Regions from separate parts of the Homo sapiens genome. Here region 1 is linked to region 2. Evidence: fine-mapped expression QTL. Tissue or cell type: whole blood. Region 2 holds a variant in brackets; the other region holds the start of a gene. All regions are shown on one strand. Distances are from middle to middle.

Region 1 (8,143 bases), 45 kb after region 2:
CATACCCTAGAGAAAGCAACATGTCTAGAAGTCTCTCCCACATCACAGTCAGATTGGACAGATTAAGGGCCCTGCGCCATGCATCCTCATTCCAGGACCTACACTAATGAACAGTTCCATAGGAAGCACTGCTGGTCACTGCACAGAGGGAAAAAGAGGTCCTCGCAGGTTTCTCCAGCACTGAAATGCTCTCACGTAGAATTAACGCAAGCCACTACCACTCACAGCTCATTGGCCAGAACTAATGACATGGCTCCATCCAACCACAAGGGGGTGGTGGCACACAGATCACTTCAATTAAACTAAGCCACTTGGAGGAGAGACTTAAGGTGCAGGCTCTCCAATTGAAGGTTCAAAAATACCCCAAATTAGAAGCATGAGAATGAGAAAATATATCAAATATAAGAAATATGACTAGAAGAGGGTAACTACTGGCACATGAAACTGAAACCAGAGAAAAAGCCAAATAGACTTTTGAGAGTAGTACTATGCTAACAAAGTAACAGTCATATAAACCCTGCCAGCCACAAGGGGACCAATTTACCATGTACCCGAAAGGTGGGAAACTGGAAATACTTGATAAATAACACTAGTGACAACCACTGTGCAATAAATGAAAGTGATGCTTAACCCACAGGCTTCTAGGGTAGTGACATTTTAAGAACACTCAGGAAGCAAAACTGGCTTAACAGAAGACACTGTACTTCATTGTTGCGCTTTAGCAAAAGTCAGTCAAGTTAATAAAATGATGCACACGCCCAGATGGGAGTGTAAATAAATATATTCTGAAGGGCAAAGGAGTGAATACAATTGTACGTGGGACAGGAAGTACAAGAGTGATGGATACAAGAAAAAAAAACCCCTCCAACTTTTGAGTAAAGGCCAAGTTGCTTAGATCTGGGAGAGCAGATATAATCATCTGTGTGGTGTGGACACTTTACCAACTGACTTTGAGAACAATCTGAATTAAGCAGCCTTTTTGGTGGGTAAGTAAAACACGCTGAAGAGTACAAAAGAAAAAGCCCACAGCCTCCTGGACTGATAGTCCTCTTTGCCCCAGAGACTCAAGGAGAGGGGCTGGAAGTGGTGATCATTTTTCTTCTTCTTTACAGATCTAGTCATGACAGGCCTGCAATAATCGTGGCCTAGGCTCACATAACTGGTTGATACATGGCAGACCCAACTGCCTCTGCCCCCAAATTCAGAAGTCTACTGATACTATGTTTTAAACAAAGTGATTTAAGCACTTTCCTGCTCCAAAGTATTGAGATGTTAAAATTAAACCTCAGGTCTAGAAATTAAGACCCTCCCTACCACGAATTTCAAGAGCAGAAGTCAACATGACACACAGTAGAAATATATATTCCACTTTATTAGTTAGAAAAAATCATTTAAGCCACATGGTGGCCACAATGTCCATAACTTGAGCAGGCTTTGGCATCCCACCACCCCCTTCAGACCAATACACACTATGTTGGAGGAACGACTTTAAAATGTAAAATGAGAAATGGGCACTGAACACTCCATCCTCACTCCCAACAGCCCACCCACACAACCTCTTCAACTGCTATCCAAACATGGAGGAGCTCTTGTGGAAGAGAGGCTCAACACCAAATAATTGAGCATAAGACATTCAAGACTAAAGGAACCCCAGACAGATGTTTAGGAAGTAGGGTTGAAAATATCACCATCTCCCAACAGCTGAAGTTGGGACATCTAAGAGATGTCAGAGCCATACTGCTGAGGAAAGCACAGCATACACCAGACCCCGGGGTAAGGGCGAGATCAACCTATCTCATAGCCATAAGCAATCCACTCACACCTGTGCATTAAACAGGCTTTTTCTTTTCTTTTTTTTTTGAGATGGAGTCTTGCACTGTGGCCCAGGCTGGGTACAGCAGTGCGATCTCGGCTCACTGCAACCTCCGTCCCCGGGTTCAAGCAATTCTCCCGCCTCAGCCTCCCAAGGAGCTGGGATTACAGGCCTCTGCCACCACACCCAGCTAACTTTTGTATTTTTAGTAGAGATGGGGTTTCGCCATGTTGGCGAGGCTGGTCTCGAACTCCTGACCTCAGGTGATCCACCCACCTCAGCCTCCCAAAGTGCTAGGATTACAGGCATGAGCCACCGCAACCGGCCTAAACAGGCCTTGCCCAGGCAATGAGCATCCAGTTAGACAGGTTCTTCAAGGCCTAGTAATAGTTCTCTGGTTACAACGGTGCTCAGCTTGTCTGCTAGGAATGGGACTCCCATCTGGACATGTCTAGGTCAGTGTTCCAAAATATGGCCAGTATGGAAGGAGGTCTTATCACATGCTTCTGGATGGATGGTCTGGAAGGCCCTTGGTGGGCTCTGTGTTGGCTAGTTGGCTTCTGGTGGTCCAGGAGGTCCCAGGCGATGGGCTCTCTAGTAAGCCCTCTAGGGACTCCATCACTCTAACGAAGATGGAGAGTAGGGTCAGTACCACACCTAACAGGTAGAGGTTCAACACATGCTTCATGGCTGAAAGGACCCTACTCCTCTGCAGAGAAACAGAGCTGCCTTCTCCTTCTGAAAGGCCTCTGGACCCTGAGAAAAAAGAGGAAAGGATGAATCTATAGCCTTTTGGGGATATGCATGCATCCAGCCCTGACTCTTCTGTCCTCTCACAGGGCTGAAGGAGAGGCTTAGCCAGTGAGGGACACAGGGACCAGGGAGTTGCACAGCAACTCTCCAAGAATATTTTACATTGCAAACTTCATGGCTGCGGAGCCAGTGTTGCTTCTTGGACTAATTCAAGAACACTTCTTAAAACTTTTACTTTCTTAGGCCAGGCGCGGTGGCTCATACCTGTAATCCCAGCGCTCTGGGAGGCCGAGGCGGGTGGATCACCTGAGGTCAGGAATTCGAGACCAGCCTGACCAACATGGTGAAACCCTGTCTCTACTACAAATACAAAAATTAGCCGGGCATAGTGGCACATGCCTGTAATCCCAGCTACTCGGGAGGCTGAGGCAGAATTGCTTGAACCCGGGAGGCAGAGGTTGCAGTGAGCCAAGATCGCGCCATTGCACTCCAGCCTCGGCAACAAAAGCAAAACTCCGTCTCAAAAACAAACAAACAAACATTTACTTTATTGAAAATTTTGTTCCTGCAAGGCACAATACACAACCCCTGTGCTACAGTGCAGGCATCAGTCACCTTCCTGAAATAGGCCCAGTCCTTTTGCAGGGGGGTGGTGGGTAATGGGAAATATAAGAACATGCCCTGGAGAAAGGAACCTGCCTAGAAGTCTCTCCCACATCACAGATTGGAGTTAACTACAAACTTTTTGCAAGTCCAAATAACTCTATGAGGGTCAAATCTATCAAGTTCATTTATTTAACAAACATACCATGAATATCTGCAATGTGTTAGGTACCCTGGAAGATACTAGGGCCACATTGCAAACCTTATAGACAAAGGGTAGTTAACACGCAACACGCTAAGTGTTGGGACAGCAAGGAGATCGTGAAGGTGCTCTGGGAGGGCATGGCAGGGATGCCTAACTCAGCACCTGTGGGCGTGGGATGGGCCACGTGGATCCTAGTTAGGACCACCTTAGGACAAAACAGGGCTGACGGCTGAATGGGGACCCCAGATGGGGCGTGGGCGATCAGAGAGGATCCCGGCGGCGCACCCCCAGCCCTGGAACGCGAGGCTGCTAGCGCGGCGAGCACTCTAGCGATGGGGGTGGGGAGCCGGGGAAGCCCACAGGGCCGCTCACCTCCGGGGGAACAGCCGGGAGTGGATCGCCGGCTGTAGGAGCAGGTCGTGCAGGAGTCCGGAGGAAAGTCGGTTACTAAGCACCAGCGCAGAAGCTTCCCGCCACAAAACTCACCGGAGACAAAAGCGCCGTCAGCCGCAGAGCGCAGAGCAACGCCGCCCAGCCTCCGCCCCTTATAGCCGCGAGCACGCCCCAGGAGGGTACGCGCACGCGCACTGGAGGCCGCACGCACGCCCGGGACGCACACGACGTGGCGCACGTCCGCGGCCCCACCCCGCGGGCAACGGGGTTTGGGGATTGTCCCGGGTGCTCTCCCGCGGAGCTGTTTCCAAAAGTACACGTCGTGCGGTTTTGAGTCATTGTGTTCTGGAGTGAGACGAGGCGTGTGTATTAATCTCGACTGCCATCTCTGCTGTAGAAAACATTTGAAGGAGTCAGAGAGCACATATCCCTTCTCCCCAGTAGGTGAAAAACACCGATGGCCTTCGTGTCCGTGAAGCCCCGCCGTGAAGGGTGGGTTCTTCCCCAGAGATTTCGGGTGCACTAAATTGTCAGAGGGCACCAGACCCCTACCCCACTCGTTATTTTCTTCATTTCAAGGACTGAAGAGCTGGTTTTGTTTCACTTCATAGCTGTACCAAGATTCCAAATCCCGAGTTTCAGTTGCCATCGGTATCTCTGGAATGGTGAGGCCCTTGTGCAACATATTAAGCTCTGCAAGCTCTGCTTTCTATGAGAGTTTGTCGTGTCGCTTCAGAAAACGTGAAATACTCCTGGCCCTGGTGTGGGATCCTAACTGCATATGGGCAAGTCACTTGGTATTTAAATGGGCCTCGGTTTTCTCATCTGTAATGAAGACATTGGCCACTAGATGATTTTTCTTCTTCTTCTTCTTTTTTTTTTTTAAATAGAGACAGTCTCGCTATGTTGCCCAGGCTGGTCTCGAACTCCTGATCTCAAGCCATCCTCCCACCTCTGCCTCCCAAAGTGCTGGGGCTACAGGCGTGAGCCACCGCGCCCGGCCGCTAGATGATTTTTAAGGGTGCTTTCGGCTTGAACTAAAGAGCCAGGAGGTCACAGACCAGCCTTATGTCCAGATTTGGGGGGCTAGGCTGCCTTACTAATCACCCCCGAACCCACCCAGCCAAGACTGTGCGGTCTGTCTTGAGAGCACGCAACGGGGGATCTCAGAAAGTAGAGTCCCGGAGAGACACTGGGAATGGGGAGGACCCCCGGGAAGGGGTGTACACGCCGTGGAAGGGAAGGCCGCTGGTGGCTTTAGAACTGGCGGTTCCGTGTACCCGGGTCAAGTGCCCGTGCCGGATGGGAAAGAACCCTGTGACTTTCCACATCTCAGCGAGCTCGGCGGGCTCTGCTTAAGAAGGGCTCTAAGACGGGAAGGGAGGAGCCATCCCCACTGCGACCTTTCCCCTCCTTTCCTGGCTGGCTGGCTGTGGTCTGTCGGGAATGAGGGGGTGGGGAAGCCGGGAAAGCAGAAGGTTGGGGCTGGAGGTCTGCTGGCAGGCAGGCAGACATTTGGAGCCAACTTTCCTGCTCAGCCCGCAGAACTTTTGGTCCTTCGCTATACCAGAGTTTCGTCTGTTTTTTTGCTTGACTGTGTGACCCTTCTCTCACACTGTTATTAAATAGGTCTCAAGCTGCGAAATCACTGCCAGATCCAAACGCCACTACTTTGCCAGGTGAAGGCCTTGGGCGAACCCTTTAACCTTCTTGTAGTTCTGTTTCCTCAGCTGTTCTGTGAGATCATAACAGTCTTAACCTGATATTAAATGAATTAATCCATATAAAGCGCTTAGAACAATGCCTGGCACATAAAAAACATTCTATGAATCTTAACATTATCTGTATCATCAACTACAAAACTCCCAGTGAGGGGTTTTGCTCATTAGCAGCCTAGGCTTGCTGAATGAATGCAGGAATTCTACAATGACCATTTGAGTTCTACTTAGTTTGAGTTCTAAATTTATACTTCACACAGCTGGAAGAAGGGATGGGCACCTCTCCAACAATTCTTTCTCCCCATATTCCCTGCCATTGTCTAAAGGTCATGCCAGTTGGAAATAAGAAGGGTTTGGGTGAGGGCAGCTCTATGCTTTACCATTCTGTCAGCTACAAATGTAGCTACCTGCATCAGGATTTAGTCCTGCCTTCAACACCTTGGCCAGGCTAACTGACCCCTTTGAACTTTAGTTTCCTTATCTGTAAAATGAGGAAAATAATCTGTAAAACAGGGTTGTTGTGAGGGTTGGAAATAATGCCCATAAAGAGTATGTCATATATGCTCAACAAATAGTAGCTATTATTTTGCTAAAAAGTATAAAGCCAGATTCTTGTTCTAAATAAGCTTGTCACCTGGTTGAGTAAACAAGACCTGAATAAGATAAGATAACTAACAACCCAAGGCAGTGTGGGGTAGAGTTTAGAAGTAAGTACATAAGTAGGGTGGTAATGTTTTGCTTGGGGAACTGGGATTTTAACATTCACTATGGTTATTTAAAAAAAAAAAAAAAAAAGAGCTGGGCATGGTGGCTCACACCTGTAATCCCAGCACTTTGAGAGGCTGAGGCGGGCAGATCACCTGAGGTCAGGAGTTCGAGACCAGCCTGACCAACATGGACCAACATTCTCTACTAAAAATACAAAATTAGCCAGGCATGGTGGCGCATGCCTTTAATCCCAACTACTTGGGAGGCCGAGGCAGGAGAATCACCTGAACCTGGCAGGCAGAGGTTGCACTGAGCTGCGATCAGACCATTGCACTCCAGCCTGGGCAACAAGAGGGAAACTCCATCTCAAAAAAAAAAAAAAGAAGAAAGAAAGAGTGGAAACAAAATAAGCATTCTTCAAGTAACTGATACGTGCTGAACATTTTGCTAAATGCATTACATGTATTATTTAATTTTTCTAACGATGCTATGAGGTAGGTATTATTGCCTCTCTTCTTTATTTGTTGTTGTTGTTGAGAAAGGGTCTCACTTTGTTTTCCAGGCTGGAGTACAGTGGCACGATCACTGCTCACTGCAGCCTTGACTTTCTGGGCTCAAGCTATCCTACCACCTCAGCCTCCTAAGTAGCTGGGACTACAGTTACACACCACCACACCCAGCTAATTCTTTCTTTTTTCTTTCTTTGCCACCACCACACCAGCTAATTCTTTTCTTTTCTTTTCCTTTTCTTTCCTTTCTTTCTTTCTTTCTTTTTCTTTCTTTCTTTCTCTTTCTTTCTTTCTTTCTTTTTCTTTCTTTCTCCCTTTCTTCCCTTTCTTTCCTTTCTTTTCTTGCTTTTCTTTCTTTTTTTTTTGTAGAGATGGGGTCTCTCTATGCTGCCCTGACTGGTCTCAAACTCCTGACCTCAAGTGATCCACGTGCCTCAGCCTCACAAAGTGCTGGGATTACAGGTGTGAGCCACCATACCCAGCCTTCTTTATTTGTTAACTATGCTTTTTCTTCCAGAGGAAGAAGAGACTTTCTTCACCTAGTCTTTTACTCATCTTTCATATCTCAATTCAAACATATTTCCTCTGGTCACCCTTGCTGACCCTCGGACCCTGTTCCGGGCTCCAGTGGCATGATAGGCATTTCTTTCCCAGTGTGTTACTTTACCCTTAGTTGTATTAATGTCTGTGTCCTTTCAAAAGCCTGAAAATGTCAGTGAAAGGAGTGTTTGGTCTGATTTTGTTTCCATTCCATCTCCAGCAGCTAGCACCAAATAGTAGGCTTTTGATAAATATTTGTTGACTGAAGGAATAAATGAATGAATATTTTACCCAGCATCTTCAGTGAGTACCCATTGTTTCATCAAGGAAATGTAGATAAGGGCGCCAAGAGAAGCCGTTTTCAGGTGCTACCTCCTCCTTGGAGCTGCAACCAAGGAAAGCTTTTTATAAGCTGCCCTTCCCCCAAAGCCCCTAAAAAGAAGTGATTCTGAAGTCAACCCACACAAGAGTACCATACTAAGAACACAAGTATTTTCACAAATTTGATCTTATCATCAAGTGTTCATTTAAATAACATGTACTTACATTTCTGGTAAGTATAAACTGGTACATTCAGTATGGAAATCAATTTGTCAGTAATTGTTACCCTGACCCCCACTTGTTTTTTAAACACCTCAAGACCATTGAGGTGTTAAAAAAGACCACTGACTACCATTTGGCAATGTCTATAAAAATAAAAGCATACACATGCCCTTTAGCCCAGAATTCCACTTTTAGGATTTATCCTTCCACATGTAGAGAATGGAGTGTTTAAAGGTAGCACTGTTGCAGCACTGTTTGTGATAATGAAAGACTGGAAAAAACAGCCCATCAGTAGAGAACTGGTTAAATAAAAGATGGTGCATTCAGACAGTGAATTACCATAAAGCCAGAAAAAAGA
Region 2 (8,195 bases):
TCCGCCCACCTCGGCCTCCCAAAGTGCTGGGATTACAGGCGTGAGCCACTGCACCCGGCCTATGTTTAACATTTTTTAAAAAGTCAGGGTCTTGGCCGGGCGTGGTGGCTCACGCCTGTAATCCCAGCACTTTGGGAGGCTGAGGCGGGCAGATCACCTGAGGTCGGGAGTTCGAGATCAGCCTGACCAACATGGAGAAACCTTGTCTCTACTAAAAATACAAAAAATTTAGCTGGGAATGGTGCTGCATGCCTGTAATTCCAGCTACTTGGGAGGCTGAGGCAGGAGAATCACTTAAACTTGGGAGGTGGAGATTGCAGTGAGCCGAGATCGTGCCATTGTACTCCAGCCTGGGCAACAAGAGCGAAACTCCATCTCAAAAAAAAAAAAAAAAAAAGTCAGGGTCTTGCTACATTACCCAGCCTGGTCTTGAACTCCTGGCCTCAAGTCATCCTCCTGCCTTGGGCTCCCAAAATGCTAAGATTACAGGAGCCACTGTGCCCAGCCAACATAATCATGTTTTTGTGTGACAAAGCTATTATTGGGACTACTGGGTAAACATGAATGGTTAGTGGCTGGCATTAATGTTTCCATGTATTCCTACTTGTGATGGATATATTTGGTAATATATTTGCTGATGTTGGGACATCAGAAAAAAATGGACTATTCTTGCAGTATTCCTATATAAATTTATTATTCCAAAATTTAGAAAAACATCAACAAGGTGAAAGCTAGGCATCTTTGTTTTTGAGATGCAGTTTCGCTCTTGTCGCCCAGGCTGGAGTGCAATGGCACCATCTCAGCTCACTGCAACCTCCGCCTCCCAGGTTCAAGCAATTCTCCTACCTCAGCCTCCTGAGTAGCTGGGATTACAGGCGCCCACAACCATGCCGGGCTGATTTTTTATTTTTTAGTGGAGACGGGGTTTCACTATGTTAGCCGGGCTGGACTGGAACTCCTGACCTCAAGTGATCTGCCCACCTCAGCCTCCCAAAGTGCTGGGATTATAGGCGTGAGCCGCCATGCCTGGTCGAAAAGTCCTTACTTTCTAAAATTAAGGATATATCCTATAACTGCATGGATCAAGACAGAAATATGTAAAAATAATTGAAAAAATGCAGAACATAAAAAAAAAGGATCTAACAATTAGCTAGGCATGATGGTGCCCACCTGCAGTCCTAGCTACTCAGGAGGCTGAGGTGGAGCGATGGCTCAAGCCAGAAGTTCGAGGTGATAATGAGCTATCATTGCACCACTGAACTCCAGCCTGGGCAACAAAGTGAGAGCCCTGTCTCCTAAAAAAAAAAAAAAAAAGCATCTAACACTGACAGTGATCACATTCAGAAGTGAAGTGATGATGTGGTTAAAATTAAGAAGTTCTCTCAATTCCTTTTGTGTCAAACACTTAAGGGTGCAGTAAAAAAAGATAATTTTGCAAAAAGTGAAAATTCTTTTCTTTTATTTTTTTGAGACAGAGTCTTCCTCTGTTGCCCAGGCTGGAATGCAGTGACATGATCTCGGCTCACTGCAACCTCTGCCTCCCAGGTTCAAACGATTCTCCTGCCTTAGCCTCCCGAGTAGCTGGGACTACAGGGGACTACAGGCGCATGCCACCATGCCCAGCTATTTTTTTTGGTATTTTTAGTGGAGACGAGGTTTCACCGTGTTAGCCAGGATGGTCTCGATCTCCTGACCTCGTGATCCACCTGCCTCAGCCTCCCAAAGTGTTGGGATTACAGGCATGAGCTACCGCACCCAGCCAAATTCTTTTAATTCTTTAGACATAGGTTAGAGGGGGAACAGTGCTTAAAATTCCATGGAACTAAGATTTTTTTTATTTTTATTTTTTTGAGACAGAGTCTTGCTTTGTTGCCCAGGCTGGAGTACAGTGGCGCAATCTCAGCTCACTGCAACCTCTGCCTCCTGGGTTCAAGTGATTCTCCTGCCTCAGCCTCCCGAGTAGCTGGATTACAGGCACCCACCAACACACCCAGCTAATTTTTTTATCTTTAGTAGAGACGGGGTTTCACCATGTTGGCCACGCTGGTCTCGAACTCCTGACCTCAGGTGATCTGCCCGCCTCGGCCTCCCAAAGTGCTGGGATTACAGGTGTGAGCCACCGTGCCTGGCGGAACTAAGATTAAAGCAAAGACCACGATCAATTACTTAACAAGAACACCACATTTTGATGCTGTCTACAGGGTCATTTTTTTCTTGTCAGGAAAATATCTGATCTGATTCTTCCCAGCTTGCTTCCCCTACAACTTAATAAGCCCTTCACTAACCCCTGTATGTATTAACTGCAATTGCCTAGCCCGGCATTTACACTCTCAAAAGATTTAACGCAATTACAATCAAAAAACACTTGTCATATATAACACTTTTTCACATGGAAATAAATGGTGGTTTAAGGTTTACAATTCCTTTGAATAAAATTTCAGTTATTAGTTACAAAATGCTAAGACAGATTGAGGTCTCAAAGAAAGAACTTGAGAAAATTATGTTTTAAAGGACTTCACAAATATGAAGCATAATTGTTAGAATCCTGATACAAAGTAACTTTTCCTAGGTTTAAGGTTCAAGTCTGAATTCTTGAATTGTCCAGCATCAACGAGACCTCATTTATATTCTTTTTATTTTATCATTACTTTCAGATTCAGGGTCTCTCGCTATTTTGCCCAGGCTGGACTCCTGGGCTCAATGGATCCTCCCTGCCTCAGCCTCCTGAGTGGCTGGGATTACAGGCATGCACCATGCCCGGTGCTACAAATTTTTTTTTAAAAAAGCTCGGAAACACAACGGGCTTGCATCGTGTTGGCAGCAGGTGCCTCTTAGCTGGTGCTGGACAGAAGGGGCTTGCAGTATTTGCACTGAATCCAAACCCGGTACATTGTCAGTTGCTTCCCTCGGTTCACCTGCAGTCGGCGGTCCACCAGATTCTGAACTTTTTCCAGTCCAGCAGTGGTGAAAAGCGTGTCCAGTTCCTCTAGTGTGGAAAATAAAAGATGTTTATGCATTTTCCCCTCAAGAAAAGGCATTTTTATCTACTAAGTCCTTGTTAAATGGGGCTCTGGGAAGTTGCTGTCGTGTTTTTTACATGGCCATTTGGTTATAAATGCAGTGGTGGCTTGGTAACAACAAGTTCATGTTTAGGTAGGGGAAGCCACTGTGTATAGGCCGCGGTTTTTTCTTTTTTAAAAACCTTTGGTTTATATTTGGCCTTTAGGCTCTATGAACACCTTAAAATTTATGCAAAACTATCTACGTATGTCAAAGCAATTGCTTTAGGAAAGAGGTTTCATCATCTTAACCAAAGGCTCAAAGAAGGTGACCCTAAAAAGGGCCCAGGAACAGAAGGCCCAAGTGAAGGATGAAGCCTGTGGATGGGCCAGTTGCAGAGGAGAGCAGTTCCCGGCACCCCTAGAACCCAGGGTTCACCCTGACCCAGGCACACCAAAGCACAACCCCGTGTAGAGGGTGAGACAGGCTGGACTGGAGGTGAGCCTTGCAGAGTGGGCAGGCTTCCCATTTTGGACAGTGGCAGACAGGGAGAGCAGAGCAGGACTGAAGGCATGGACAAGCCAGGGCTGCCTGGGGGCCCGAGTGGCTGGCTGCCATGGGTAGCCTAGCCCAGGGTGGAAGAGGGTGTGAGCAGCGGGGAACCGAAGGAAACAGCCTGCCTAAAAGGCAGGAGGGGCCAGATAGTTTTCCTTCTGAATGTGCCTTGAAGACCATCTGGTACTGGGGACTTTTAGCGTAAAAAGATGAGTGTTTCATACCTTGTGTGAAGAAGTAAACTCTGGTTCCATCACCTCTCACATAGAAATTTCCAGATAGACACTGACCTGCAGAGTGATGTATTAAAAATCAGAGACACTTTAAAGTGTCTCTTTGACTTGCACTGCTAAGGAATGTTAACTGAGAGGCCAGTTTGTTGGGTGGAGAGCACTCCTGCCTCAGTGCTTCGGGAAGAGCAGCTCAACGGGAGTAAGTCACAATGTCAGAAAACATGAGGTTCCTAAGCACCCCACTCCAAAACTCTAGAATTATTTGATGAAAACAACTTGTTCACTCTCCCAACCCTATTAAACTAACAGCACAAACTTTTTATTTATTTATTTTTTTTGAGACAGAGTTTCGCTCTTGTTGCCTAGGCTGGGTGCAATGGCGTGACCTCAGATCACTGCAACCTCTG[A/C]CTCCCAGGTTCAAGTGATTCTCCTGCCTCAGCCTCCCAAGTAGCTGGGATTACAGGTTCCCACCACCACGCCCAGCTAATTTTTTGTATTTTTAGTAGAGACAAGGTTTCACCATGTTGGCTAGGCTGGTCTCAAACTCCTGACCTCAGGTGATCCACCCGCCTTGGCCTCCCAAAGTGCTGGGATTAAAGGCATGAGCCACCGTGCCTGGCCTATTTTTTTTCTTTAATTAAGCAATATAGCTGAGTTTAAGGAAACTTGAGACAACCATTACCATTTTGGTGGTGACTGTCCTTTGCATGTCTCTTCACGTGTCTACAGAATCATAAATACAACTCAGATACTGTTTTGATCATGAACATGCTTTCCCTTCTGCTGCTAACCTCCCTGACCTCATCTCAGTTTACCAGCCTGGCACATACTTCTAGACCTTCCCGAATGCCCAAATCATCACACGTGTATACTTATTTCCCTGCAGATACTGGTATACGGGGATGGAGTTTAAAATACTCCCTTGCACATTGCTCTCCTCTCACTGAATACACAACAGAAATCCCTCCAAGTTCAGTGGTATGGGGTCCACCTCAGGTGACAAGCACGACATCTCCCTATCCAGAGGCATTCACTTTGTTTACAAAGTTTTGCTCCTGCATGTATTATGTGCTAGTTCTTGACTATATTCAAAAAAAGACTGGACTGAACAATAATTGGGTACTTAAAAAAAGGCTGTAAGCTGGGAGCAGTGGCTCACGCCTGTAATCCCAGGACTTTGGGAGGCCGAGGTGGGTGGATCACCTGAGGTCAGGAGTTTGAGACCAGCCTGACCAACATGGTGAAACCCTGTCTCTACTAAAAATACAAAAAAATTAGCCAGGCGTGGTGGCACATGCCTGTAGTCTCGGCTACTCGGGAGGCTGAGGCAGGAGAATTGCTTGAACCCAAGAGACAGACGTTGCAGTGAGCCGAGATCGTGCCATTGCGCTTCAGCCTGGGAGACAGAGCGAGACTCCGTCTCAAAAAAAAAAAAAAAAAAAGGCTGTTAATACTGGGCACAGTGGCTCACACCTGTAATTCCAGCATTTTGGGAGGCCAAGGTGGGTGGACCCAGGAGGCAGAGGTTGCAGTGAGCCGAGATCGCGCCATTGCGCTCCAGCCTGGGCAACAAGGGCAAAACTCCATCTGAAAAAAAAAAGGCTGTAACAATTTCTTTTTCTACCAGTAATGAAGGAATGCACCTCTTTCTTTGAATTGGCCAGCAATAAGAAGTACTAACTTGTTATTTTTATTTCCTTGAAGTGTTGTTTACTGGCCATTTAGATACGTTCTTCTGTGAACTGACTAAACACTCTTCACCTGCTTTTTGGGTGGGTCACTGATCCTTATCAGTTTCATGACAGCTCCCTGAAGAGCAAAGATATTAAGTCTTCATCTATTATATGCACTGAAAATATTCCTTCTTACTCCGTCATTTGCCTTTTACATTTTTAATGGCATCTTTTGTCATGCCACATTTAAAATTATTTATGTCTTTCAGATGTCTTTTTTTTTTTTTTTGAGACAGAGTTTCACTCTTGTTGCCCAGGCTGGAGTGCAATGGTGCGATCTCGGCTCACTGCAAGCTCCGCCTCCTGGGTTCAAGCGATTCTCCTGCCTCAGCCTCCCGAGTAGCTGGGATTACAGGCATGTGCCACCATGCCCGGCTAATTTGTATTTTTAGTAGAGACAGGGTTTCTCCATGTTGGTCGGGCTGGTCTCGAACTCTTGACCTCAGGTGATCTGCCCGACTCGGCCTCCCAAAGTGTTGGAATTACAGGCATGAGCCACTGCGCCCGGCTGTCTTTCAAATGTCTTTCTAATAAAAGCTCTTCTAAAGGTAGCTGTCTTGCTTAAAAAGACCTCAATATCTAGATTATACAAGCCTCTTCAGTTTTCTTAAAAAATATACTACTCTGTCACATATTAAATGGCTTTATATAAGGAGTTCTAATTCTAGAGTTTCTATTCTGATGGCAGCACCATTTTTTGATTATAGTGGCCACATACCTTTTTTTTTTTTAAAATTATACTTTAAGTTCTGGGGTACATGTGCAGAACATACAGGTTTGATACATATGTATACACGTGCCATGGAGGTTTGCTGCACCTATCTACCCGTCATCTACATTAGGTATTTCTGCTAATGCTCTCCCTCTCCCAGCCCCCCCACCTCCAGACAGGCCCCAGTGTGTGATGCCCCCCACCCCGCGTCCATGTGTTCTCATTGTTCAACTCCCACTTATGAGTGAGAAAATATGGTGTTTGGTTTTCTGTTCTTGTGTTAGTTTGCTGAGAATGATGATTTCCAGCTTCATCCATGTCCCTGCAAAGGACATGATCTCTAGTGGTTAGGATTCAGCACTCTCAAAATACCTTTTTTAAACCGAAGCTGAGCCATGTCATAGCGGCCGTAATCTCGCAGAAGTACCATCCCCCCAGGTTTCAGAAGCCTGCTCAGCCTGTTGATAGCCTTCTGCATCCTGTGGAGACACAGGGAATTATAGTTAATCAGGTCTCCTTAAAGACAGGGTTCTCTTTCCCTGTAGCATATCCCAAAAAGCCAGTGGACTTCCTCAACTGACACACCAAGTCTGAGATCTAAGCTCCTCTACTCTTCAGTTAGAACTGAAGGACGTTAGCTGCCTGCTCACAGCTGTGGCCTCAATCCACTGCCTTCAGCCCGAAGAGGCCCAAGGACAGCCTGCTTCTGCCATAAGAAAGTTCTCTGCTCCCGGCCAGGTGCGGTGGCTCATGCTTGTAATACCACCATTTTGGGAGGCTGAGGCAGGCGGATCAAATGAGGTCAGGAGTTTGAGACCAGTCTGGCCAAAACGGTGAAACCCCGTCTCTACTGAAAATACAAAAAGTAGCCAGGCGTGGTGGCATGCGTCTATAATCCCAGACACTCAGGAGGCTGAGGCAGGAGAACTTCTGGAACCTGGGAGGTGGAGGTTGCAGTGAGCCAAGATTGCACCACTGCCCTCCGGCCTGGGCGGCAGAGTAACTGAGACTCCATCTCCAAAGAACAAACAAACAAACAACAGTTCTCTGCTCTCCATCTGGATCACTTCCCCACTGTCCTAGATAGCCATCTTTGCCCTGTGCTCCTGTGGCTAAGCCGAATCCTGAGCATCCAGTGGGTTCTGCTAGGGGACTTATCTGCCTGCACCATTAGACCTGAGCTCTTTCAATGTAGGGGCTGTATCTTTCTGTTTGCTAAATGAAGACTTGTCCTCAAGAACTTACAAGTTACATGGCAATACAATCAGTATGCAAATGAGTATAACAGACAGAGGGTTTTACACTTAGGTCTGCGCTTTCCATATGCAGTGTTCTTCAAAAGTCTTGGTGCAGGTTGAAGCTTTCATAACTTGAGAAGTCTAAATGCTACAAACTTCACCAAAAAAAATTTCAAAGTCTATTTAAATTTTGCATAATGAATGTTTCCCACTTAAAAAAAACAAAAAACAGAAAAATGGCTAAGGCAGGCAGATCACCTGAGATCAGGAGTTCGAGACCAGCCAGACCAACATGGTGAAACCCTGTCTCTACTAAAAATACAAAAAAATTAGCCAGGGATGGTGGCAGGCACCTGTAATCCCAGCTACTTGGGATGCTGAGGCAGGAGAATCGCTTGAACCCGGGAGGCAGAGATTGCAGTAAGCCAAGACCATAGCACACACTCCAGCCTGGGCAACAAGAGCGAAACTCTGTCTCAGAAAACAAACAAACAAACAAACAAACAAACAAACAAAGAAAAAGCAGCTGGGGTCCTGCTATGCTATGTTGCCCAGGCTGGACTCTTGGGCTCAAGTGATCCTCCTGCCTCAGTCTCCTAGGTAGCTGGGACTAAAAGTGTGTGCCACTGTGGCTGACTTGAATTTTAAATTTTAATAATTTGTTTTAGTCCATGTCAATTTTAAAAAAGTTTGTAGCATTGAAACTTCTAAAGTCATAGGTTTT

The links. PIP is the estimated chance that this variant, and not a neighbour inherited with it, causes the effect.
Region 1: it holds the start of HILPDA, and the variant in region 2 is fine-mapped to the expression of HILPDA in whole blood (TOPMed, PIP 0.94).

The regions. Positions count from the first base shown.
Region 1 is chr7:128,451,627-128,459,769 of GRCh38, reverse strand. HILPDA (hypoxia inducible lipid droplet associated) reads right to left here and starts at 3,892. Exons shown (of 2, transcript NM_013332.4): 1 at 3,747-3,892; 2 at 1,352-2,569. The coding sequence starts at 2,501. The coding sequence ends at 2,310. It also overlaps the pseudogene EFCAB3P1. RefSeq lists enhancers at 101-395, 4,080-4,249, 5,158-5,864 and a silencer at 3,840-3,979.
Region 2 is chr7:128,496,553-128,504,747 of GRCh38, reverse strand. METTL2B (methyltransferase 2B, tRNA N3-cytidine) reads right to left here. Exons shown (of 9, transcript NM_018396.3): 7 at 6,606-6,712; 8 at 3,780-3,845; 9 at 1-2,986. The coding sequence ends at 2,832. Among named protein-coding and RNA genes, the nearest start is that of METTL2B, 24 kb to the right of the region's middle. The variant A/C (reference allele first, on the strand shown) is at 4,196.